Homo sapiens: one gene and its partners. The protein of the gene in region 1 purifies or fractionates together with the protein of each later gene. This does not show direct contact. Each region holds a gene or a part of one and is shown on either strand. Other genes may lie near its edges. The genes, in order: DTWD2, FREM2, NOCT, PCDH7, PC, DCAF8 and POLE.

Evidence for each region.
Region 2: the proteins of DTWD2 (region 1) and FREM2 purify together in Homo sapiens (affinity purification with mass spectrometry, with the first as the bait; one large-scale study listed by BioGRID). This does not show direct contact.
Region 3: the proteins of DTWD2 (region 1) and NOCT purify together in Homo sapiens (affinity purification with mass spectrometry; one large-scale study listed by BioGRID and IntAct). This does not show direct contact.
Region 4: the proteins of DTWD2 (region 1) and PCDH7 purify together in Homo sapiens (affinity purification with mass spectrometry, with the first as the bait; one large-scale study listed by BioGRID). This does not show direct contact.
Region 5: the proteins of DTWD2 (region 1) and PC purify together in Homo sapiens (affinity purification with mass spectrometry, with the first as the bait; one large-scale study listed by BioGRID). This does not show direct contact.
Region 6: the proteins of DTWD2 (region 1) and DCAF8 purify together in Homo sapiens (co-immunoprecipitation; one large-scale study listed by IntAct). This does not show direct contact.
Region 7: the proteins of DTWD2 (region 1) and POLE purify together in Homo sapiens (affinity purification with mass spectrometry, with the first as the bait; one large-scale study listed by BioGRID). This does not show direct contact.

Annotation. Positions count from the first base shown.
Region 1 is NC_000005.10:118,838,548-118,842,047, forward strand, and holds part of DTWD2 (tRNA-uridine aminocarboxypropyltransferase 2), read right to left. Parts: intron 2,541-3,500; coding exon 2,370-2,540; 3' UTR 1-2,369.
Region 2 is NC_000013.11:38,879,077-38,882,576, reverse strand, and holds part of FREM2 (FRAS1-related extracellular matrix protein 2 precursor), read right to left. Parts: intron 2,294-3,500; coding exon 1,790-2,293; 3' UTR 1-1,789. UniProt on the Homo sapiens protein: Extracellular matrix protein required for maintenance of the integrity of the skin epithelium and for maintenance of renal epithelia. Required for epidermal adhesion. Involved in the development of eyelids and the anterior segment of the eyeballs.
Region 3 is NC_000004.12:139,018,781-139,022,280, forward strand, and holds part of NOCT (nocturnin), read left to right. Parts: intron 1-3,500. UniProt on the Homo sapiens protein: Phosphatase which catalyzes the conversion of NADP(+) to NAD(+) and of NADPH to NADH. Shows a small preference for NADPH over NADP(+). Represses translation and promotes degradation of target mRNA molecules.
Region 4 is NC_000004.12:31,136,369-31,139,868, forward strand, and holds part of PCDH7 (protocadherin-7 isoform d precursor), read left to right. Parts: intron 1-3,500.
Region 5 is NC_000011.10:66,951,884-66,955,383, forward strand, and holds part of PC (pyruvate carboxylase, mitochondrial precursor), read right to left. Parts: intron 2,554-3,500; 5' UTR 2,366-2,553; intron 586-2,365; 5' UTR 547-585; intron 1-546. UniProt on the Homo sapiens protein: Pyruvate carboxylase catalyzes a 2-step reaction, involving the ATP-dependent carboxylation of the covalently attached biotin in the first step and the transfer of the carboxyl group to pyruvate in the second.
Region 6 is NC_000001.11:160,224,550-160,228,049, forward strand, and holds part of DCAF8 (DDB1- and CUL4-associated factor 8), read right to left. Parts: intron 1,115-3,500; coding exon 1,042-1,114; intron 571-1,041; coding exon 513-570; intron 1-512. UniProt on the Homo sapiens protein: May function as a substrate receptor for CUL4-DDB1 E3 ubiquitin-protein ligase complex.
Region 7 is NC_000012.12:132,642,343-132,645,842, reverse strand, and holds part of POLE (DNA polymerase epsilon catalytic subunit A), read left to right. Parts: intron 1-1,816; exon of another isoform or gene 1,817-1,865; coding exon 1,866-2,006; intron 2,007-2,282; coding exon 2,283-2,436; intron 2,437-2,512; coding exon 2,513-2,619; intron 2,620-2,846; coding exon 2,847-3,023; intron 3,024-3,113; coding exon 3,114-3,337; intron 3,338-3,445; coding exon 3,446-3,500. UniProt on the Homo sapiens protein: Catalytic component of the DNA polymerase epsilon complex. Participates in chromosomal DNA replication.

The DNA of each region.
Region 1 (3,500 bases):
TACTTACAACTGTTTAATGAGAACAGGTGACTAGAGAAGCATTTTATACCACAGATGATTAAATGGACTCACCTTGTTAAGAGGTCAGGAAAAAATAAGTAAAAAACAAGTACAGTGAGTTAACAGGTCAGTAAAGTAATTTGGAAAACTATACATACTTCAAGAAAATTTTATACATTTCCAAAAACACTAAATTTTAAGCTTTTTAAGTCTTCAAAAATACTCTAAAATGTTTTATTTAAAAGATAAAAGTAGAAATTACTCTTAAAAATCAATAAAGTAAAATTTTGAGATACAAAATGGTATACTGGGGGTAGGGGGAGTTTTCTTTTTAAAAAATAATAATGATGGCTGGGCACGGTCCCAGCACTTTTGGAGGCCAAGGCAGACAGATCACGAGGTCAGGAGATCGAGACCATCCTGGCTAATACGGTGAAACCCCATCTCTACTAAAAATACAAAAAATTAGCCGGGCGTGGTGGTGGGCACCTGTAGTCCCAGCTACTCAGGAGGCTGAGGCAGAAGAATGGCGTGAACCCAGGAGGCAGAGCTTTCAGTGAGCCAAGATTGCGCCACTGCACTCCAGCCTGGGCGACAGAGCGAGATTCCATCTCAAATAATAATAATAATAATAATAATGACTAAAAGAAACTCATGAAGTTTAATATCAATGTGAAAAATTACTACAAAATGATTTTAGCCCCACTTGTTAAGAAACTATTATACATTATTATATGCTGTTTCTTTTCTAGTACACCAAATAATCATTTGATATTAAGTGCTTTACATTGTAAATGAGCTAGTTTGTTTATTTATTTATTTATTTTAGACAGGTCTCACTCTGTAGCCCAGGCTGGAGTGCAGTGGAATGAACATAGCTCCTTGCAACCTTGATGTCCTGGGCTCCAGCGATCCTCCCACCTTAGCCTCCCAAGTAGCTAGGACTACAAGTGCACACCACCACATCTGGCTAATTATTTTTTTTTTAATTTTGTATGGAGATGGAGTCTCACCATATTGCCCAGGCTGGTCTCAAACTCCTGGGCTCAAGCAATTCTCACATCTCAGCCTCCCAAAGTGCTGGGATTACAGGTGTGAGCTAATGGGCCCAGCCCTAATTTGTTTTTAAATCCAAAAATAAATCAACAATAGAAGCCAGCACTCTTTTAATATTTTAAAATATTTTCTGCATAGTTTCCCCAAATATTAGCATTCTAATTGTGACCAGCATTATACCTTTTAATGAGTCTAATCCAAGTAAATAATAAACAAATGATCATGAAAACTGTGAGAAATAATCATTGGTGTATGCTCTATAAATAGTTACCAAGTTTACCTTTAAATGGCATGTTTAGTTTTTCCTTACAACTTAACACTAGATACAGGAAACTCTAGAACTCATAAACAAAGACTAAACAAAATCCCCTCTTCCTGCCAAAATGTGTACATAATTGCAGTAGACTTGTGCTGAATATACATATATGTTACATACATGTCTCTTATTCTATACAAAATCTCAGCAAATATTTTCCCACAGAGCAGGAAGAATTTTTTCTCTCAAATGGAAAGTTTTTGCTCGTTAAAAAGGTTATATTAAATAGCCCTAAAGAAATATGTTCTGAAAATAACAATTGTATCATATTCCACTTATTATTTTCCATATGAAAACATCAATAAAATAAGTTTACCAGAGTCAATAAGCCTGTTCAATGAACACTGAAAAATACAAATTTATCCAGAGTGATTACAAATGAAAATGTGTGCTATTTCAAAATTACATGCACCTCTTTAAAAATCAGGGCAATTAATAGAGCGCTTAAATCATATTAGCTGAGTTCAAATTTGGCCCCTAAACAATACTTAAAATTTCCTTATTCCTTTATACTATTTTACAAAATAATAAATTACTTGATTATCATAATTTTCTTTTGCTACTTATTTCAAACTGTAAAGTCAGGACTGCAAACTGATGTAGGAATCTTATATTATTGGTCTACACCTAATTATTTATAAACATTAATGGACACAACACCGTTCCAATCCACTACAACAATTTTCTTCTATTTTACAAGTAAGAACTTCTAACCTATCACAACAACAAATCATATTTTAAATTTGGGTTTGAAAACATGTATTAGAGGCACATTTTTAAAAACAAGTACAGTAGGAAATCCTGCTTTTCAGTGAGCCAGTGAATTTCTGTTTATTTGTATTTATGAATATTTGGTTTACTTCCTTCTTCTGGGTAAGATTAGTATGCAATTCTCCTTCTTTAGCAAGTCAAAAACCTACAGACCTTAACTATATGAAAACTTAATTTGGTATTGTTAGATGAAGACAGTTAAGCTAGCACCAAAAGAATAACTGTACTAAATTTTAACACTATTCATTAACAATTCCATTTTCCTGAGTTTGCGTTTGTTCTTTGGCATTGGTTTAGGATATAATCCATTTTTCAGAAGGTGTTCCTTGCTGAGGCGAATTTGGGCACCATGCTGAAGTTGAAAGGAGCATAAAGCTTGAAGAGGGCGAAGCAAAGTCTGTCAAGAGAAAAAAGACACTAAAAAAGTATCTGTGACAAATCATGATATTCTATCTATATTTTTCATTCAGAAATAGGAGTTACTATGTTTCTTTTATTATGATTGGCTTTTAACTATGAGAAACACTAGGCACTCTGATAAATATATAATTATTTCTAGATAAATAATGTCTTTAAAATTCATGCCTTAATATTACACTAAGGAATTTTATTAAAAAGATACAAATACTGATTTTCCACATAGGTAATAAAGTCTGGCATTAGTTTTATACATTATTCAAACACCACAAAAAATTGTTGCCATTATAATTGAATCCATAACAAGGAGACTAAATGAGACATTTAAATACAAAGATAAGTACACCAAAATAGTCAATTCAGTTTCTATGACAAATTAATGCAAGCTTACTGACACCTGACAACAATTAGATGATGGCAGCAATGGGTAAACGGTTTGCTATTTCTCTCACATTAGTGCCATGGACCACATACAAGTTAGATGCCCAGGTCTTGGTGCGTTTGAAATTATTCTAACAATATCTGAACTGTCTAAATTCAAATACCTATAGGCCAGCCATGTAACAGAAACACGTAAACTGGGTGGATCTTTACAAGCCAACAGAGAATAGTGGCGGCTGTAATACAACTGGAGTATACGCTCTACCTGAAGTTATTCAAATTCAAAAATTAAAAAAAAAACAACACTATGCCAGTGTTTTAAACATATTTTGGGTGAGATTCCTTCCTTGGGCCTGAGACCCCTGATGAAGATATTTTCAAAAATAACAGCAAAAAAACTTAATTAAACAGATTGTTAAAGGAGCACAAAAGAAACAAAGAAAAAACTGATAGATTTAACTACAAAAAATTCACAATGTCTACGTGAAAATGTATTAACCCACAAAGAAAACCCCACATGAATTAACAAATGTAGTAAGGGTTCTCTTACATGCGGCCA
Region 2 (3,500 bases), on another chromosome or scaffold:
TATTTTTGTAAATTCTCCAATGAAAGGATACTACAGTCTATTTTTAAAAAACTGAACATGAAGTGCAGAGCTGCCTAAGAGAAGAAAGGCAACTATTGGACATATGACCTCTCTCTCAGTATCAGTGTTGCTTCCTTATCTTGATCAAGAAATGGTTGATACTTACAGACACCAAATTAAGATGTGCACATCTGTTCTGAGAAGTTTGCCTTTTAAAATTCTGCAGTGACCAAGATGTCCAATGTGGCCAGCTTATGGCTAGAAGTCAAAGGGGATTCTAGCCAGCATCTGAAGGATAATCTGTAGGCATTATTCTTTTTCTCCTGACCTTATTTTTCTTTGAAACATGTTTACTAGCTTTTGGAAAGCTGAAGTTTTCCCCTTCTAAGCGAAATTTCTGCTATTTGGTAACAAACACATTGATGCAGAAAGGCAATGGGAGGCTTGCCAAGGAAGCTCACTCAAGTTCCTTGGCTTTGGGAGGTGAATGGTAAGCACTGTTACAAATTATATTTTTAAATATTGAGAGGGACCACATTGTACCAGTTCACTGAACTGGGGATGCCAGAGCGATGTCTTCTTGAACCAAATAAAAATATGGTCAATGATTCTGGCCACCTCCAAGACCATTTCTGGAATGATAGTTGCAGAGAGTCCCATCGTTTGGACCAGATGCTGGATAGAAAGCTAATAAAATGTCCTGTAGCCAATTTAAGTTCTAAATGTTATTGTGTGATTACGCTACTCCGAGGGATAACCTCATCTGTCAAAATGTTCCTTTATTCTATAAAGTATGTATAAGAGGCACTCTGATTATACACATTATATTAATAAATACCACTTTCTCCCTTCACCATCTGTAACAATGTTTCTTATTATCATTTATGGGTTCAATACTGCAAACATCTAGGCTCAGTTCTTAGAGAACATTGTCTTGTAGTGACTCTAACTCTATGGCATTTATTCATCACCAAAATCTCACCAACCCTCTAATTTCCCACAAATGTTGAGCACCAATAAGGTATATTACCATGCAAGAGCTCTACCATTACTCACTATATGCCAAAACAGAGCAGCATCTCTTAAAAATCTCTTTCAGAATTAACATATTCTTTGGTTTAATTTAAAATTAAATATGCAAACAAAACAAGGAGAGTCTGATGAGAATGAGAAGCAATTCAAATTCAAGTGAGTGAACTTCCTTCCCTCTATCTTTCCTTCCACTGTCTCCCAAGTAGTAGATCAGTTGATTTGTGGGTTGAGCCACCCTGGTCATAATTCTATGCTGTCTTCACCTATTTGAAAACTTGTCATAATAAACAGTGTGTTCACCAGTTTTCCAGACTAGCAACAAAAACCTTTCTAGTAATAATCTGTTATACAATTAATAAACAATGTGATAATTGCACCTTCAACATTCACACTAACATAGCAACAGTAGATTCCTCTTACACTTGTAAGAGAGTCTGTTAGCACCTTTTAATAGATTTATCTCCACTGCATAGAGAATATGTCTAAAATGAGGAGTACATTCCTCACATCATGGCTCTGTGTACATATGAGTACGTTGTTGCTGCCTTTGGGGCAAGAGGAAAGATGCCTTAATTTGTCCTTTGATGCAAAAAAGAGTATGGAGAATTCAAATCAAACTCCATTAGTACAGTCATATTCTCTAAGCAGCTTCATCACAGCCATCCTCCATTCTCTATGGTTTACCAGAAGTATTTAAGGTTCCATTGTGATCTTTTCCGAGGCACTTACGGAAAAGGTTGAATTCTACCTGCAGTCATCAAACTTCTGAGCTGTCATTGTGATGGCTCTGTGGGGGCACCATGGGCTCACTGCTGCTGGAGCCTTTCGGGGCATCCTTCCCCCTGAAACTTTCCTTGCCCCTGCACATCAGCACTGCAATGACAGTGAGGCAGATGGTGAGTAACCCTACCGTGGTGCCTCCCACCACAGTGACCAGGCTGACTGCAGAGCTGGGGCTGTTGAGCTCCCAGGGGAGGATGCCATCTGGAGGTGCTCTCCCATGGGGGATCTGCCTCTTGGTGCGGTCCAGGGCAATGTGCTGGATGTTTGTTCCTCGACTGTTTTCAGCACCAATCTCCCATGCCAGTGAGGGTGTGCTCCTGATCTCTCTCTTCTTCCGGCTCTTGGTGGTGGATTGGGGCTTTCCTTGACTCACCAGAGAATGGTACTCCACACTTCTTTTGCCAATACCTCGATTGGCATTGTCTTTCGATCTCACTGTATAGATCGTATGTATATACCATTCTCGGCCTAGAGCGACCTAGAAAGCACAACTCTATTTATTAGGAAATACTAGATACCATGTCAATCTAATCCACGACTCTTTGCAAGAGAAATTAATGGCAGAGATATTAATAAATGATTTTAGTCTGCAGAATTAACTTACTTAATATTTTTGAATGAGTACTAGGTGCAAGGCTCTGTGCAAAGCACTCTGTGATATATCCTGTGCAACTCTTAAGGGAGTGAATATGTGATACTTGTTGTCATAGAATGAGAGAGTTCTAAAGAACTATTAATAGATTATACAGTCTAGCTTATTCACTAAAAAAATGAGTAAATTAGAATATGCAGCAGTTAAGTGAGTTGCCCAATGTTACTCAACCAGTTAGTGGCAGAGGCAGGACTACAGCTCAAATCTTCTGAACCCCAGGACTCTTTTCACTGTGTCTTGCTGCTTATTGCATATAAGACCATAGGGGGAAAAAATCAATTTTCAAGCTTTTCTGGGGCTTTGGAAAAGGATGAATTTTCTGATGAGTCTTTGAAGCATGCAAGATTTAGGAAGGTCAGATGCTTTGAGATTTAATGGCAAAAATAAAAATAAAACATATCATACTTCAACTTCTTGTTTGAAAAGATTGAGAATAACAAACATGCTTTCTTAAGATCCTTCCTTAGGTTGAATGAAAATAACACATTTCTCCAGGCCATCCTGTCGGGTTAATTTTCAGTAAATATCCTAAAAGCCGCACTTGCTTCGGCAGAGATTTGCAGTGTAAGCACCTCTTGAAATTTGTGGCATTTGCTCAGTGTTGTGGCAGCTGCCTGTGTTTCCCTCCACCTTTGATCCCTGAGTCAGGAATTTGTATCTTGGTTTCTGAAATCTTTGAGAGTGGAGCTGTGCACAATTGCTTTCCTGAGTTCAGCAGTTCACACAAGATCACTCTAATTAAGATATTGGTGAAAAGTCAGCAGGAAGGAAGTTTTGAATAAGAAAAGCAGATTACTCAACTGTCAGACACAGATTTATATTCTGGGCTAAATAAGACTCTTCATTACACATAGTCTTAAAATAATATTAATACATTAATAAAAGTGATAAGAGCTATGAAAGCCAGATATATTGCTAACAAAAATAATAAACGCTGGGTTTATGGAGTGCTCACCATATGCCCAGCATAGGGTTATGTAGTTTATTTGCCATATCTTATTCAATGTTCCCATTAACTGTATGCAATATTACT
Region 3 (3,500 bases), on another chromosome or scaffold:
CTCTTGACTTGGAAATGGCACAAGGGTGCAGGAAAGCAGGAAGTCCCTTTTGGGCTTCTAGAAATGGGTGGCATTTCAGCTGGCTCTTGAAGCATGGTTAGGATTGGAAGAGATTACTATAAAGCGTTTTGTTTGGAAAAAGCAGGAGTAAATGCAGAAAGGCATGAGACACACACAGATGAGGAAGGGTGAGAGAAGAGGCACTTTGCAAAAATGGACATTGTTTTCCAAAGAGCCTCAGACCCAGCACTAAGTGCTTTTTAATTTTAATTTTTATTTTTATTTTTTTTGAGACAAGGTTCTCTCGCACTGTTGCCCAGGATGGAGTGTAGTGGCGCCACCTCTGCTCACTGCAACCTCCACCTCCCAGGCTCAAGCAGTTCTCCTGTCTCAGCCTCCTGAGCAGCTGTGACTACAGGCACACGCCACTGTGCCGGGCTAATTTTTGTATTTAGTAGAGACAGGATTTCAACGTGTTGCCCGGGCTCGTCTCAAACTCCCCAGCTCTGGTGATCCACCTGCTTTGGCCTTCCAAAGTGCTGGGATTACAGGTGTGAGCCACTGCGCCCAGCCTATGAAGTGCTTTTTTAAAATGCAGATTCTTGGATCCTACTGTAGACCTATTAAGTCTGAGTCATTCATGATGGGCCCTGGATTCCACATAACCAAATGAAATGACAAAAAGAATAACTCCAGATTGTTCTTCTATGCCCTCAAATTTGGACATCTGGCACCCATATGTGAGAGAGACATTGAAGGGGCCAAAAGCTCCTCTCCACTCCTGAGCCTTGTGGTGGGGAGTAGTGAGTCCCGACAGCTGTCCACATTTGCTAATCAGTTCCTGCATAACTTATGCCCCTTGGCAATTGGTAGTTATTGGGAAGATAAGTACAGTCCCTTTGGAGTTATCAGATTCCAGGTTGTTAGAATTAAAAGGTGACCCTAGGGATGATCTCGGTGTTTGGCTTTCTTTTCTCAAGGATAGCAGCCCCCCTAAGAAGTAGCAGTTGCCACAGTTACTGTACTGGATGAAACGCAGTTGGAAGTCATCTGTGGATTTATAAATGCTATCCTCCACATCCCTCCTCCTCAGAGAATGAAGAGCTGGCTGAACTACTGTTCTCTACCATTAGAACATTTGCTTTTTTTCATGGTACAATTTATAGGCAAATGCCACCAGCTCATTTGAGAAGGCAGCTTTATTTAATATGTCCTTTAACTATGTGAGTAAACTGCTTATGAGAGAGAAGAAACGGGAAAGCTTGTCATTATCAAGCTGCTATGGAATAAATTGCTTTCCTTGTGGGAAAACTAATGTATGATTTTTCTGTTAGCATTCAATGGCAACAGTTTAAACATGGTGAACTGGGGTTCTTTGGGGTTAATAACCATGGCTCCAGATTCACATTCCACACACTTAACATTTGTAAATCATTTAACCTTGCTTGCTGTCTCAACACTAGACTTTACCTAGAACAAATGAATAAGATCAATTGATAGCAATTTATCCACAAGCTTTATTGAATAGTACATGTAAAAGGTGACATGACTAATTGCAGTGGGAGTTGAGAAGAAAGAAATCAGTGTGGCTGAATTTGTCAAGAAATGCTTTGCTTCTAATAGGTGAAAAAGGAGGGTGTTTTGGAAGGGGACAGTTTGCGGGGTGGTGGGGGCAGGCAGAGAAGACCACACACACAATGCCTGGAAGAAGGTGGCGCTCGCATGCAGGAGCTGTGGCAAGCATCTTAGGAAAAGGGGTAGAGGCAGAATCATTTGGGACAGTTGTTAAAATGCAGATTTCTGGCCTTTCAGCCCTCTGCTTGATCAGTTTCCTGTGGAGAAGCCCGGTGGAGTGCATATTTAACAAGTGCCTCAGGGGATTCTTCCAAAAAGATTAGGGAGTATTTATGAGCTCTGCCCCTCCTTTCCCCAAAGGTACTTATTCCTGGAAAGCTTGAGAAGCTCTGGAGAGGATTCTGGAAGAGCCTTAAGACCTTTGGTCTGGCCGGGCACAGTGGTTCACGCCTGTAATCCCAGCACTTTGGGAGGCCGAGGTGCGGATCACTTGAACTGAGGCATTCAAGACCAGCCTGGGCAACATGGTGAAACCCTGTCTCTACTTACATTAGAAAAAAAATAGCCAAGTGTGGTGGTGCACACCTGTACATCCCAGCTGCTTCGGAAACTGAGGCAGGAGAATCACTTGAACCCAGGAGGCGGAGGTATCAGTGAGCCGAGATTGCGCCATTGCACTCCAGCCTGGGCGACAGTAGGAGCAATACTCTGTCTCAAAAAAAAAAAAAAAAAAAGGATCTTTGAGCTTGGGGCCTAAGGCAGTTCAAGAGACCCCTGAGAAAGAACATTGACCCCCGAAAAAAGCAGCTTTAAAAAATTGTATATTTTGTCGAGACGGGTTTTGCCGTGTTGCCCAGGCTGGTCTCGAAATCCTGGGCTCAAGCAATCCTCCCGCCTCAGCCATCCAAAAGTGCTGAGATTACAGGCATGAGCCATCACGCCCCGCCAAAAGCAGCTTTTAAGAAAGGGAAGAAATTCCAGGGCCGGGCACAGTGGCTCAAGCCTGTAATCCCAGCACTTTGGGAGGCCAAGGCAGGCGGATCACCTGAGGTCGGGAGTTCGAGACCAGCCTGACCAACATGGAGAAACCCCATTTCTACTAAAAATACAAAATGAGCTGGGCGTGGTGGCACGCACCTGTAATCCCAGCTACTCTCAAAGAAAAAAAAAAGGGAAGAAATTTGCATATTAATGAAAGTTCAGTGAGAGGAAACTTGAGACTGAGGTTGTAATGGGAGTGTATCCATGTAGTCACTCTAAGTCACAACTTAGAGTAAAATGAGGTTTCTATGATGTTTACTAAAAGAAAAGTGAGGTAATTGTGTTCTGGCTTCTTGGAGTTAGGAAGGGAGATACAGCGTCTGTATTTGCTGTCAGGAGTCACTGGTGACTAATTACAGTTTTTCTGGTTTTTTTTTTTTTTAGACAGTTTTGCTCTTGTTGCCCAGGCTGGAGTGCAGTGGCGCAATCTTGGCTCACTGCAACCTGTGCCTCCCGGGTTCAAGCAATTCTCCTGCCTCAGCCTCCCAAGTAGCTGGGACTACAGGCATGCGCCACCATGCCCGGCTAATTTTTTTGTATTTAGTAGAGACAGGGTTTCACCATGTTGGTCAGGCTCCTCTCGAACTCCTGACCTCAGGTGATACACCCGCCTTGGCCTCCCAGAGTGCTGGGATTACAGGTGTGAGCCACCACGCCCGGCCACTAATTAGAGTTTATAGGGCTTTGATAGCCACTTAAGTGGTGGTTATACTTCAGTAGATAATTAGAAATTTGAAGGACAGTGTGCCTGGGCGTTTAGCCTCATAGTAAACCTGTTTGGACTTCCACGGAAAGCAGCTAAGATACTTTTTATTTATTGTTATTCTTAGAATGGGAGAAAATCAGCCTTCCCACGGAGGGAGTGAGACCTCAAGTGAAAACCT
Region 4 (3,500 bases), on another chromosome or scaffold:
AGCTTCTACGTGGTTGAGCCTGGAATCACACTGAGCAATACTGGGACTCTAAATCTCCTGCTCTTTTTAAAAGTTCATTGCTCTTTGCAGGAAGGGCCCAGGAATGGTACAGATGATGCCACAGCAAGGATTGATTGATTAGCCAGTGTTCCTATACTCTTCTATTTTGGTTAAATCAAGTGATCCTGTAATAAATTAAAAAACTCTTTGGAAATCTTAATGGCCTTTTTGTGGCCAGAGTGACACTTACTTAGATAACTATAAATTTCTCCTCTTCCAGAAAGTGTTCCTACATTTAGAGGATCACAAACTGCTGGTCTGAGTCAGTGATTCCCGCCCTGACCGTGAACTGTGATGTGTTTGCCTGTCCAGTCTTCCTAAATTCCCCAAACCGGCAAAAGGCAGGGATATTTTAGTTATTTACGTGAAAAAGCCAAGTCCAACTCACTTGTGCATCTTTTGGATCTTGTCTCCTCACCTCCAATCTTTATTAACTATGATAATAATCATCCAAAAAAAAGTTTTGGTTAACCAGCATTTAATTATTTTTTTCTCAGCCCTATCATATAAAATAAAAGTAAACAATTTTCTAACAGGTATTTTAAAATAAAGCATTTATTTAATCATTTGAGTAAAAGATATTTTCATTTAGACTAATGACAGTGAAGGGAATGTTAAAACATTTGTTGTAAAACATTTTTCACTGATCTTTTGTTTTTCTTGTTTACCCTTTTGTAAAACCTTTTGTAAGTCCACCAAATTTCACTAGCATTTAAGTGTGCTTCTAGAAAAAATAAGTCTTTGTGTAGAGGGAAGTCAAGAAACATAGAAAGAAAACCAAACACTTTAAAAAGGAAAAAAGGAAAAAGTTCCTGCATGTGGTTTTGTTTTGTGTTGTTTTGTTATTTTGTCTCTAAAGGAAAGAAATACCAGGCCGGGAGCAGAGGCTCACGCCTGTAATCCCAGCACTTTGGCAGGCTGAGGAGGGCAGATCCCTTGAGATCAGGAGTTCGAGACCAGCCTGGCCAACATGGCCAAACCTCATCTCTACTAAAAATACAAAAAATTAGCCTGGTTTGGTGGTGCATGCCTGTAGTGCCAGCTACTCAGGAGGCTGAGACATGAGAATCGCTTGAACCCAGGAGGCAGAGGTTGCAATGAGCCGAGATCGTGCCACTGCACTCCAGCCTGGATGACAGAGCGAGACCCTTCTCGAAAAATAAAATAAAATAAAACAAAATAAATAAAAAGAAGAAAATACTTCTTATTTTTTTGCAGATTTTGTCAAGTAATGTTAATCATATGCCAGAGCTTGATGTTAATGAACAAATTGGAGGAATGGTGTGGGCATCTGGGAAGTCCATACGTTGACTTAACAATCCGTTTATCTCACATGGCCAGCAAATTAAATAATATGTGAGTTAAACAAATAAATGATACATACAGTTTTACATATCTGATCTTTAAGAAAACTCATTGGAAATATTTTAATACTAAATATAACATGTTCATACCTTCTCTCAGCAAATGCAAAGATCCATGTATCTCTAGCCTCAAGCCAAGGACCTGGAGTAGAGTGAGTGTCTGGGATTCTGACAGGATGCAAAACTCAGCATACTTAAAATCCTTCCTGGTGCAGAACTGTCTTCAAGTCTTAATGAGTCTACTGTGCTCTCCTATAATAATTTTGTCTCTAATGGGTTCTGAATTATGTAAGGCATCTTCTGGAAACATGAAATTCCTCTCTAAACCTGGGCTTTCCTTGTTATTTCTAAAGATTCTATTATCTATCTGTCACTTCTTGTTGAGGTCATTGTAACAGCATCTAGCAGCATCTGCCCACCACCCATCCATCTACCCTGCCTAGTAAAAACAAAAATACTATGTTTTTGAGAGATAATCTGACTTCTTAAGAAAACATATAATTTTCTCCACTTTCCAAAATGTATAGTTTTAGGGAGGTTGTTTCATTCTTTTCACTAAGTAGTAAAATTTGTGACTCTGTGACATCTATTTCCTGTGCTACTCAGATTTTTTTTTCTCTTTCTCTGCAGACTGTAGCTTGTTCAGATGGTTATGAGTAGCAGTCATTGACCTCTAAATAACTCAGCTGTTATATTTTAAGAAGAAGCAATGGGTTGTAGTGGGAAAACAGTAAATTGAAAGTCAAAACACTTATTCTTCGGCTTCAGCTCTCCCGTAGCTTGGACCCGTTCGCTGTTCCATCCTCCTTGCTATATGATTGAGGTGCTAAATTAAAGAGATGAACTTCATGTGGGAAGTACTTCATGTGTTATGAATTGTTCTAAGATTGTTTGCTAGTTTGATGGCTTAAAAACTGTTACTTTCTCCCAGCACTTTGGGAGGCCAAGGCAGGTGGATCATTTGAGGTCAGAAGTTCAAGACCAGCCTGGTCAACATGGTGAAACCCCATTGTATTTTGAAACAATACAAAAATTAGCCAGGTGGTAGTGGTGCGCGCCTATAACTGTAGCTACTCAGGAGGCTGAGGCAGGAGAATCGCTTGAGCCTGAGAGGCAGAGGTTGCGGTGAGGCAAGATTGCACCACTGCACTCCAGTCTGGGCAACAGAGTGAGATCCTGTCTCAAAAAAAAAAAAAAGAAAAGAAAAAAAACTCTACTTTCAAGAGAGATATTAACCTTATGTCTAGGAAAGGATCTTAACTTTCTAATAAGATGCAATGATTCTAGTAAATAGCATAACTTGGTTAAAATGGAAACCTCTACAAGTAATGCTAAGCAAGAACAGGATTTGATGGATACCATTTTTTTACTTCCAGTCTTCTCAAGGTTTGATATGATTGATGGGGTATGCGGGCGTTGAGAAATACAGAAACAACAACAAAAAATTCTCTAAGGAACTGGCTTTATTGTGGAAAATGCTTACAGAGAATACTATTTTATTTTCCTGTTGTTCATTTGTATTGATTTACTCAATGCCAGCTAAGATTTGTGATCAAGTGTCTTCCATCTTCACTGAGATCAAAATTTAAAACAACAGTACTAAAGCATAAAATAATGTTCTTAGATGTTAGAAAAGACATCCTTCAGTGAAAGACTAAGAAGAGTTACTAATTGTGAAAGGCTTTCCTCTATAATGCCACAAAAAAATAGGACAGTTTAAAAGTATGTCTTTTATGGAAAGAAGAAATAATTGCATGTGATGTTTATCTAAGATCCTGCATAAATTTTGTGTTGAAAAAATTCATAATATATGCATGCATAATTAAAATAAGAAAATATGTAAACAAAGAAAAATACTTTTCCACTCATGCCCTTCTTTAATAAGTTGCATCGTAATACAGATTGCATTTGTTAATCATTGGTATTTCTTTGGAAGATTCACTTTAGTCAACCAAATTGGAAGTTTTGATTGCTTGTGATGAATCTCTTATAGCCCTTCTTGATTATTTTTCTAAATTTGATGACAAACATTGCAACATGTCTCAGCCAATTAGGCTTGTCAACTTCCTCTGTGGT
Region 5 (3,500 bases), on another chromosome or scaffold:
GTCTCAAAAAAAAAAAAGAAAAAAAAAAACTTAGCCAGGTGTGGTGGCACATGCCTGTAAAATGTGCAGGGGAAGAAGGGCAGGTCCCTTTTTCCCCGTTGTTACCGTGACTGGCAAAGGTTGAGCGTCACCCTCTGGAAACCCGTGTCAAGTGACTTTACAACCAGCTGGCAGAACCACCTCACACCACAGCTGCCTGCTCTCCATGCTGACTCAAGGGGTCTTCTCAGAGACGGCCCAGCCCCAGGGATTCTTCCTGCCCAGCTTCCCAAGCTGACCATACCCTTCCAGAACCAGGGCCTTCTGCTGAGGCTGGCCAGCTGCCAAATGGGGCCAGCAGGGAGCCAGATGTCACTTTCCTGTAAAAATCAGGAGCAACTGGAAACAGACAAGACTGCTTAAACGGATATTATCCACAAATCAGAGCGCAGCCTTTTTTTATTGATTGAGCTTAAGACCTGACATGCCAAACTGCTGGCATCCACAGCTGCTCCTGGTGAAGACCCCCATGCATCCCGCCAGCCTGGATTCAGGCACAGGACTTACCCTTAGTGTTTGGTCAGCTCTCCAGAAGGCAGACACTATCTAAAGCAAAAGAAAAAACAGCATTACCCTCATTGCTCCAGGAACTTCCCAGAGAAAACAGGAGTGGCAAGAACACCGATTTTAGAACCCAGAGAACTTTTTCAGTCTTGTTACCCGGGCTGGAGTGCAATGGCGCAATCCCGGCTCACTGCAACCTCTGCTTCCCGGATTCAAGCGATTCTCCTGCCTCAGCCTCCTGAGGTAGTTGGGATTACAGGCATGTGCCACCACGCCCAGCTAATTTGGTATTTTTAGTAGAGATGGGGGTTTCTCCATGTTGGTCAGGCTGGTCTCGAACTCCCGACCTCAGGTGATCCACCCACCTCGGCCTCCCAAAGTGCTGGGATTACAGGTGTGAGCCACCGCACCCGGCCAAGAACTGTTTCTTTGCTTCCACTGAGGGCACCAGGAGGGTACAGAGCTGGAAGCGCCAGCTGTGCTGTCCCACTGCCTGGACTGCACCTCTTGTTACTCTGACAGCCGCTCTGTAATCACTCAAAGTCTGTTTCCTCATCTGTAAAATGGGAATAATAACAATGCCCATCTCACAGCGTACTAGGGAATACCCAATGAGGCAGCACACGCACAGCAGTGGCACCATGCCTGGCACAGAGGACACACTGGGACGTTAACCGACAGGCTAGGTGGGAAGCGCTTAAGTAAAACCCTTTTCTGCCACCCACTACACATGAACAAGAAGTTCTAGAAACAGTTCGTTTTATCTGAAGTGCTTTCTCTTCCTGCCCACTCCGTCCAGCCTCAGGCCCGCTTTCTCTGCATCTCCGCAGAGCTGTCTCTAATCCTTCAGGAGCTCCCTCTGAATACTGGGAGTCTGGTTCTTCTCTCACTCCACAACTTGAAACTAATAAGGAGCTGTCTTACGTGACCTGAGATGTGTACTCTATTTCCTGGCTATTTCCTCAAATCCTTTCCTGCAGAGACCCCTCTCTGCCATAAGTAAGAGCCCACCTCGTGTTTATGCCCATGGGAGCCCACAGTTGGTATTGTGTAATCACTTTTCGGAGTTTTATTGACTGCTTATTTCCGAAAAAGCCACACCTACCCTAGCCACTAGTCAATGAACAGCAAAATGGAAAAACAGGCCAGCAAGCTCAAATCCCTGTTCAGAGAAAACCAGCTGCCTTGACAGATAACGTCAAGGCTGAAATTCAATGTCTGGGGCACTCAAGTCAATAAAATATTTATTGAGCACATGCCTTGCACAAGGAACTGTATGTACACTCAGGCCCTGCCCACAAAGTGCCAAAAAGCAAGTTGTTAGGGGCTGGTTAAAAGAAGCAAAAATGGGATGGCACGTGAGAGGGACTCCAGCAGTGAGCCACCTAGCCTGCCTGGCTGTGTTACTCTGGGCGTTATTTCACCTCTCTGAGTTTCACCTATGAGAGTCCGTCATTTGTAAGAGATGGATCTAATAGGACCTTCGTAATAGGATTGTTGTGATAATCACATTATGTGTATGTAAGGGGCTTAGCAAGGCCGTCACCACCACACAGTAGTTGACTTTTATTATTAATAACAATAAATCATTACTTATCATCATCGTTATGAAAAGAGAGCCCAGTCCAACTGAATAGATTTGGCAAGCCTTAATAAAGTCCTGTGTCTCGAAGAATAATTTAATTTTGACAGGACAAGATAAGAAGCAAGGCCCTGCAGAAAACAAAGTCAACAAGAACAAGAGCAGAGGGGGGACCGTGAGAAGTGAGTTTGGGGTAACAGTGACTAATCTCACTATGGGGGCTGACACAGAAGAGGGTACCTGCGGAGGCAAATGGAAGAAAGAGCCCAACAGGTGGAATCATATTAGAGAGTCTTGAACGCCAAGATGAAGCAAGCTTTTCATTCGGTAAGTAAGAGGAAATGGTTTATTCTTTTGGCCATTTCCCATCTTCCACCGTCAGGCCCGACTCCTTTGGCAAAGTGTCCACAGGTGAGACTAGAAGGCAGCTAAGAGAAAGAGAGGAAGGCACGGTCAGTCAGGCCCAGGTGAGGTTTCAGAGTGAGCAGGCAAAATGCCCTGCTGCTGTGAAGGAGGCCTCTGGGTGAGAAACCTGCCCCAAAGCAGGAACTTTCAGGATACAAGAAACGGGGCCCATTCAGATGGGGGCAGGACGATATTGGGAGGCAGCCAAAGAGAAGGCCATGCTCATCCTCAATGAAAATGTTGACCAGAGGCCGGGTGCAGTGGCTCACGCCTGTAATCCCAGCACTTTGGGAGGCCAAGGCAGGTGATCACCTGAAGTCAGGAGTTCGAGACCAGCCTGCCCAACATAGTGAAACCCCATCTCTACTAAAGATACAAAAATTAGCCAGGCAAAGGGTTGGTGCCTGTAATCCCAGCTACTCAGGAGGCTGAGGCAGGAGAATCACTTGAATCCGGGAGGCAGAGGCTGCAGTGAGCCAAGATGGTGCCACTGTACTGCAGCCTGGGCAACAAAACAAGACTCCGTCTCCAAAAAAAAAAAAACACAGAAAACGTTGACCTGAACGAGGCCTCCAGCCCATGCAGAAGGTGCCAGTGAGAAATGTGGATTGCCAGATTTACTGCCATACTGACCTTGGTGCTGGCCATCCCTGCCACCTCCAAAAGTAACTCCTTTCCGTATTCCCCATCTTGCACCCTTCTCTCCTCACTGGTTCCCAGTTTGACCCCTTTTCAACTAATTCACCCAAAACACTCATTAGGCACCTACTTGTTCCTGGCACTATTAGGTACTGAGAGGACAGAGGGAAGAGGGACACAGGGAACTGTGGCTTGGGATAAGAGTAGTGAATCTGAGGTCCTGCCCTGCCACTGGTCCCAGAGCCCCCATGAGTGGTGGTGGGAGGACAGGTACCTATCACAGTGCCTGGGGCACTGGAAGTGAGACCGGGTGAAAGCAAGGAGCAGGACA
Region 6 (3,500 bases), on another chromosome or scaffold:
CTGCCAAGAACAAGAACATAGCAGTGAAGGCAAAGGCTGAAAAAAGCAGGGACCAGGAGGTGGGGGTTGGGGTGGGGCTTCTTGCCAGTAGTGCCCCCTCCAAATACCCAGGTGTAGCACCCATCTTATTTGGAACACCAGGCAAGTCCGACTGTACAGGGTAGACTAAGAACACACTGCCAACCCAGGGGCAGCAGAATGCTCAAAAAGGTCATACCCATTAACTCAGGAATGAGTCAAAGGCATAAGAACCTGCTCAGGCAAGCAACCTGGGCTTCAGGACAGGCCCTGCCAAATATCATCTGCAGCATTCTGCAAATGGTACCTGGCATCTCCAAGGGTCATCTACTGTATCCTCCCGCTATGTGCTCACCATCAGCAGTTACTCCCCAGCTGCTCTACTTGGAGCTATAGCACAGTGGTGAGCACTGGAGGGCACATGCCTCACTGGCTCAGCAGCTCCCTAGACAGAGGGGGCATGCCAGCCTAGGAGCTGGGCCCTGCTCACGTACCTGTGCCGTCGTGGCTGTACACAAGACAGGTGATGTTTGCTTTGGACTCACTGTTCACCTGCAATAAGGAGCAGATACTGACTGATGCCCCACCCCCCCATTTGTTATACCATCTTCAGGAAACAGCTTTTCCTTCAAACTCCCCTATATCTTCTCCCAGAGATTTGAGAAAGACAGACAGAGACAAGAGTACAACTGATGAAACATGACCACCTCAGGGGGTAGCATCTTGGGGCTTTCTTTTGGTTGTCATCCATGTGCTAGCCATTTTATGTACACTGTCTCATTAGGCCTCACCATCAAGGTGCAAGGCAGTTATTTTTATTTCTATTTTGTCGATTAAAAAACTGAGGCTATCAGAAGTGAAGTGACTGCCAAGATCACAAAGCTGGTAAGTGGTAAAGCCAGGATTCAAATCCAGATGACTGACTTGAAAGTCCAAGCTCTTCCCACCATACCAACAAGTTCAGGTGCAGCCTTGGGGTTGAGTCAGGGAAGCCTGCAGCAACTGGCCCTTCATGAATCTTACCAGGTGATGAGGACAGAACTTCTTGAGTACTCCATTGTTCTCATTCTCATCAATTTTCCTCTGGTCATAAATCCTACAGTTGGAAAAGCAATGAAAATGTAAAAATGTACAAACGAAACCCTTGAAGAGCTGCAATTTGATGTAGTGGCAGGAAACTGCCAGCTGGATGCAGATAAACAACATTTTCCAAACCAAGCTTTTGGTTTGTGCTCTTCCTTAAAGGGCATCCCTTTTCCAATCCATTTCCAAACCCTAAATCTTTTGTTTGTTTGAGATGGGGTCCTGCTCTGTCACCCAGGCTGTAGTGCAGTGGCATGACCCCGGCTCACTGCAACCTCCGCCTCATGGGTTCAAGCAATTCTCTTGCCTCAGCCTCCTAAATAGCTGGGACTATGGGCACACACCACCACGCCCGGCCAATTTTTGTATTTTTAGTAGAGACAGAGTTTCATCTGTTGGCCAGGCAAACCCTTAAATCCTTTATCCACATACTTCCCATTTTAAGTGGCAATCCTCAATTCTGTCAGTTTGAAGTGGTTTATCTCTCTCCTCAAGTTTTATATCACATACTGCTACTTTTCACTGAAACAACTAACATTAGTATGGAGCTTTTTACATGTACATTACCTACCGAAAAAGGTTACTCACGGGCAGAAACCATGCTTAATGTAAGTCAATGGGTCTGTAATCCCTCCTTAAAACTGTATTTGGCCTGTTCTCCCTCTCATACCCCACAATAATTATTAAAAACTACCACCCATATCCTCAAGACTCCCTCTCCTTTCCTCATTCTTATCAAGCACACTACACCTTCACCTTCCTTCCTCTCTCTAATCCAAGCTTTAAACTCATGAGGACACACATATTATGTGTCAAATATTATGCTAGGTGCTAGAAATACAGTGAGGAACAAGACAGATCCAGTATCTGTTCTCACCCAGTCTCCTCCAATCTCAGAGCCAATCTCTTGAAAAATGCTTTTCATTTCATCCTTCCAGGGACCTTGTTTGATGATTATCTAATTTCTCAACCTCTTCCTCATCACCAGCTGGCCACTTTCTAAAAATCCTTCTGCTGACTGTCCTTTCCTACTATTGCTTTTTTTCTCCTTCCCCTTACAGTTACACTACTGAAAAGAACAATCAACATTCAATATTTCCACTTTCTTACTTCCTATTCACTTCTCAGTCCATCCTAATCTGGTTTTGGTTCTCAACTCACCACTGAGACTTCTCTGGCTGAAGTCATCAGTTAATTATATCCATTTGTTAAGTAGGTGTAAGTCTAGAGTTCAGAATAAGTGTGGTCTGCAGACACAGATGTAAGTCATATATCCGTGTGAAAGGTGGTAGTTAAAGCATTGGTAATGGAATTAGATCTCCAAGGGAAAATACAGAGAAGATTTTCCCTTCGCCCTTTAGAATCTCTGGCCTGTTTCAGAATATAATGAAAACTCTAGTCCCTTCTCCCCAGAAAAATGCACATAAGCATACTTTCTGGAGGTTCACATAATATTTGTACTTCAAGTTAAAATTCCCTGGTATAGAGTAAGATGAGAGCTGAAGACTGAGCTACTGGAGAACATCAGCATTTAATGGGTGGAGAAAGGAAGACACACCCATGAACAACACTGAGGAGTGGTTGGACATCAAGGAGAGAAGGTGCTTCAGGGAAGGAGTAATAATGTCAAGAGTAGAGAAAAAGACTTGAAAAGTACTTTGTTTGCTTTGGCAGTTAGGTTACTGATGACTTAAGCCTTGACATCCCCAGCTCACACGATCCTCCCGCCTCAACCTGCCGCGTAGCTGGGACTACAGGCACACACCACCATGCTGAGCTAATATTTTTATTTTTTGGTGGAGACAGCATCTGCCCAGCTTGGTCTCAAACTCCTGGCCTCAAAAGATTCTCCTGCCTCAGCCTCCCAAAGTGCTGGGATTACAGGTATAAGCCACTACACCCCAACTAAGTGTTTATTAATAGCTTACTATATTCTACATATGATGCTAGAACGGAGTTTGGCAAACTTTTTCTTAAAGGACAAGACAGTAAATGTTTTAAGCTGGTAAACTGGCAAACCATCTAATCTCTATTAAAACTATTGAATTCTGCCATTGTAGCATGAAAGTGGTCATAAACAACATGTAAAGTAAGGCCATGGCTGTGTTCCAATAAAACTTTATTTATAAAAACAAGCACTACAGTTTGTCAAGCCCTGTGATAGACAGTAAGCATAGAAAGATTAATACAAACTTTCCTACCACTTTCTGAACATATGATAGGCCCTTGATAGTTTATATTTTACTTTTAGTTATTTTTTTTGAGACAGGGTCTCACTCTGTCATCCAGGATGGAGTGCAGTGGTGTAATCACAGCTCACTGTAGCCTCAAACTCCTGGGCTCAAGAGATCCTCCTCTGCCTCCCAAGTAGTTGGGACTACAGGAGCATACCACCACAC
Region 7 (3,500 bases), on another chromosome or scaffold:
AACATAATTTTTCATTTCTTTGATTTTGTGTGTGTGTGTGTGGGTGTGTGTGTGTGTCGGTCTAATTTCATGTTACTGGAAAAATCTAACCCTACTGGTTCTCTTCTCGCTTGAGAATTATTCAGATTTTCCTGGTTGTTGTTACGCCAAATAACGCTTTATTGCAACCTGGACATTTTACATATTTGAGACTTTGGGTATTTTTAAAAATCCTTTAGCGTGTCAGGTTTTTTTGTTTGTTTGTTTTAGCAACAACCAACACGGTTAATTCCAGTGCCCAAGCTCTTCCTTGCCTCTTTGTGCAAAGCTTCCAATGTCAGCTCAGCCTCCAGAGCCTCTGCTGCGTTGTTTTGGGTCACCTGTGCAAGTGCAGCTCGTAGTGAGCCTGGGACTTGTGCTGCTGGTTCATGCATGAAGCTAGGGTGCTCCTCTCCAGGATTCCCCCAGCCCCCCACACACGAAGCTAGGGTGCCCCCTCTCCAGCTCTCCTCTCCAGGATTCCCCCAGCCCTCCACACAGGGAGCTAGGGTACCCCTCTCCAGCTCGCCTCTCCAGAATTCCCCCAGCCCTCCACACAGGGAGCTAGGGTGCCCCCTCTTCAGCTCTCCCAGACCCCCCAGGACCCCACACAGGAAGCTAGGGTGCACCCTCTCCAGCTCTCCCAGACCCCCCAGGACCCCACACAGGAAGCTAGGGTGCCCCCTCTCCAGCTCTCCCAGACCCCCCCAGGACCCCACACAGGGAGCTAGGGTGCCCCTCTCCAGCTCTCCCAGACCCCCCCAGGACCCCACACAGGAAGCTAGGGTGCCCCCTCTCCAGCTTTCCCAGGCCCCCCCAGGACCCCATTCACGAAGCTAGGGTGCCCCTCTCCAGCTCTCCCAGACCCCCCCAGGACCCCACACAGGAAGCTAGGGTGCCCCTCTCCAGCTCTCCCAGACCCCCCCAGGACCCCACACAGGGAGCTAGGGTGCCCCCTCTCCAGCTCTCCCAGACCCCCCCAGGACCCCACACAGGGAGCTAGGGTGCCCCTCTCCAGCTCTCCCAGACCCCCCCAGGACCCCACACAGGGAGCTAGGGTGCCCCCTCTCCAGCTCTCCCAGACCCCTCCAGGACCCCATTCACGAAGCTAGGGTGCCCCTCTCCAGCTCTCCCAGAGCCCCCCAGGACCCCACACACACACTCTGGCTCCCCCAGGGGCTCTCTTTCCGTTTCTCTGACTAGGAAAATGTGATTTCTCTCAGTTTTTGCCATCTACACCCTCAGGTTAAACCCATGAGAGAATGGAGGAAGATGAACTGGGAACCTCCCCAGATCAGTGTTGACTGCTGTATTCTGACAGCTCTTGTCTATTCTCAGAGGCTGCAGGTTGCTTTTCAAAATTGCGTCCAGAGGCCAGGCATAGTGGCTCACACCTGCAGTTCCAGCGATTTGGGAGGATCACTTGAGTCCAGGAGTTTGAGACCAGCCTGGGCCTCATAGTGAGACCTCCTTTCTACAAAAAAAAAAAAAAAAAAAAAAAGCCATCCGTGGTGGTGTGTTCCTTGTCCCAGCTACTCAGGAGGCTGAGGCTGGAGGACCACTTGAGCCCAGGAGTTGGAGGCTGCAGTGAGCTGTGATCACACTGCTGCACTCCAGCCTGGGCAACAGACTAAGACCCTGTCTGTAAAAAATAAATAAATAACATAAAAATTACATCCAGAGTTTTTAGTTGTAATCATTGAGAGAGGTGGACTGTGGCGTGGTGGGTGTACCCCGTCGCTAGGGGCACCAGAAGTCTAGGACTCCGAATAGCGTGTGCTTTGTGTGTGTACCACAGACATTACCACTTACGCCCAGTGACGAGATCATCGTCGTATTCTCGCCAGGTAAATCGGGTCCTTCCTCGCTCCAACATGGTCTACAATCTCTATGAGTATTCAGTGCCAGAGGACATGTACCAGGAACACATCAACGAGATCAACGCTGAGCTGTCAGCGCCAGACATCGAGGGCGTATATGAGACTCAGGTGACTCCCCAGCCACCCTCGACTGAACTGGGGGAGGCTCCAGCAGGGTGGTATGGAGGAAAGAAACCCGCCCAGGGTGTGGGCTGGGGAACAGCAGCGACAGTGGACTCGTTCCCACAGGTGAGGTGAATGTCAGCAGTGTGTCTGCCAAAAGTGGCCTTTGGGCAGTGGGCCGGGCAGCTGCAGGGGCACAGCCACATCCCGGGCAGAAGTCACGTGGGCAGCCAGAGCCCCCACCATCCAGCCCTTGCCGGCCTGTCTGCCCGATTCTTCCAGGTTCCGTTACTGTTCCGGGCCCTGGTGCACCTGGGCTGTGTGTGTGTGGTCAATAAACAGCTGGTGAGGCACCTTTCAGGCTGGGAAGCAGAGACCTTTGCTCTTGAGCACCTGGAGATGCGCTCTCTGGCCCAGTTCAGCTACCTGGAACCAGGTATGGCCTGCACCAGCCGCCCATCATGTGCCTGCCTCCCACACATCTGGGGTGACGGTCTTGTTTCCTTCTCCAGGGAGTATCCGCCATATCTACCTGTACCACCACGCACAGGCCCACAAAGCGCTCTTCGGGATCTTCATCCCCTCACAGCGCAGGGCATCCGTCTTTGTGCTGGACACTGTGAGTCCTGGGCCCTCCATGGCAGCACATTGGCTGGGGCAGGGTTTGGGGAAGGAGGACATCTCCCAGGGTGCCCAGGCCCTCCAGGTCTTGTCCTCAAGGGCCTTTGCCCATGAGTGCTTGTCGTGATTGAATTGGCAGTGCCGTGGCAGTGGTGGAGTCTGCCCCAGGGCTGCCCCCACTTCCTCCTGCGCAGGGGGAGGCTGACGTGGCCTGCGTTGGTCTAGGTGCGCAGCAACCAGATGCCCAGCCTTGGCGCCCTGTACTCAGCAGAGCACGGCCTCCTCCTGGAGAAGGTGGGCCCTGAGCTCCTGCCACCCCCCAAACACACCTTCGAAGTTCGGGCAGAAACTGACCTGAAGACCATCTGCAGAGCCATCCAGCGATTCCTGCTCGCCTACAAGGTGAGAGTGGTTGGGGTCTTGCTGTGTGAGCCCCATCTTCTTTGAGGCTGGGTCCACCCAGGTCTTTTCTTCCATTTTGCCTTGACCCAGGAGGAGCGCCGGGGGCCCACACTCATCGCTGTTCAGTCCAGCTGGGAGCTGAAGAGGCTGGCCAGTGAAATTCCTGTCTTGGAGGAATTCCCACTGGTGCCTATCTGTGTGGCTGACAAGATCAACTATGGGGTCCTGGACTGGCAGCGCCATGGAGCCCGGCGCATGATCCGTCACTACCTCAACCTGGACACCTGCCTGTCGCAGGCCTTCGAGATGAGCAGGTGAGCACAGTACTGTCGTTGTGGGCCAGTGGTCCCCAGGCAGAGCCGGCCTCGGTGGTCTCTGTGACCCGGCGATGTGCCCCGGTGCTGACCTGTGCCCTGGTGCAGGTACTTTCACATTCCCATTGGGAACCTACCAGAGGACATCTCCACATTCGGCTCC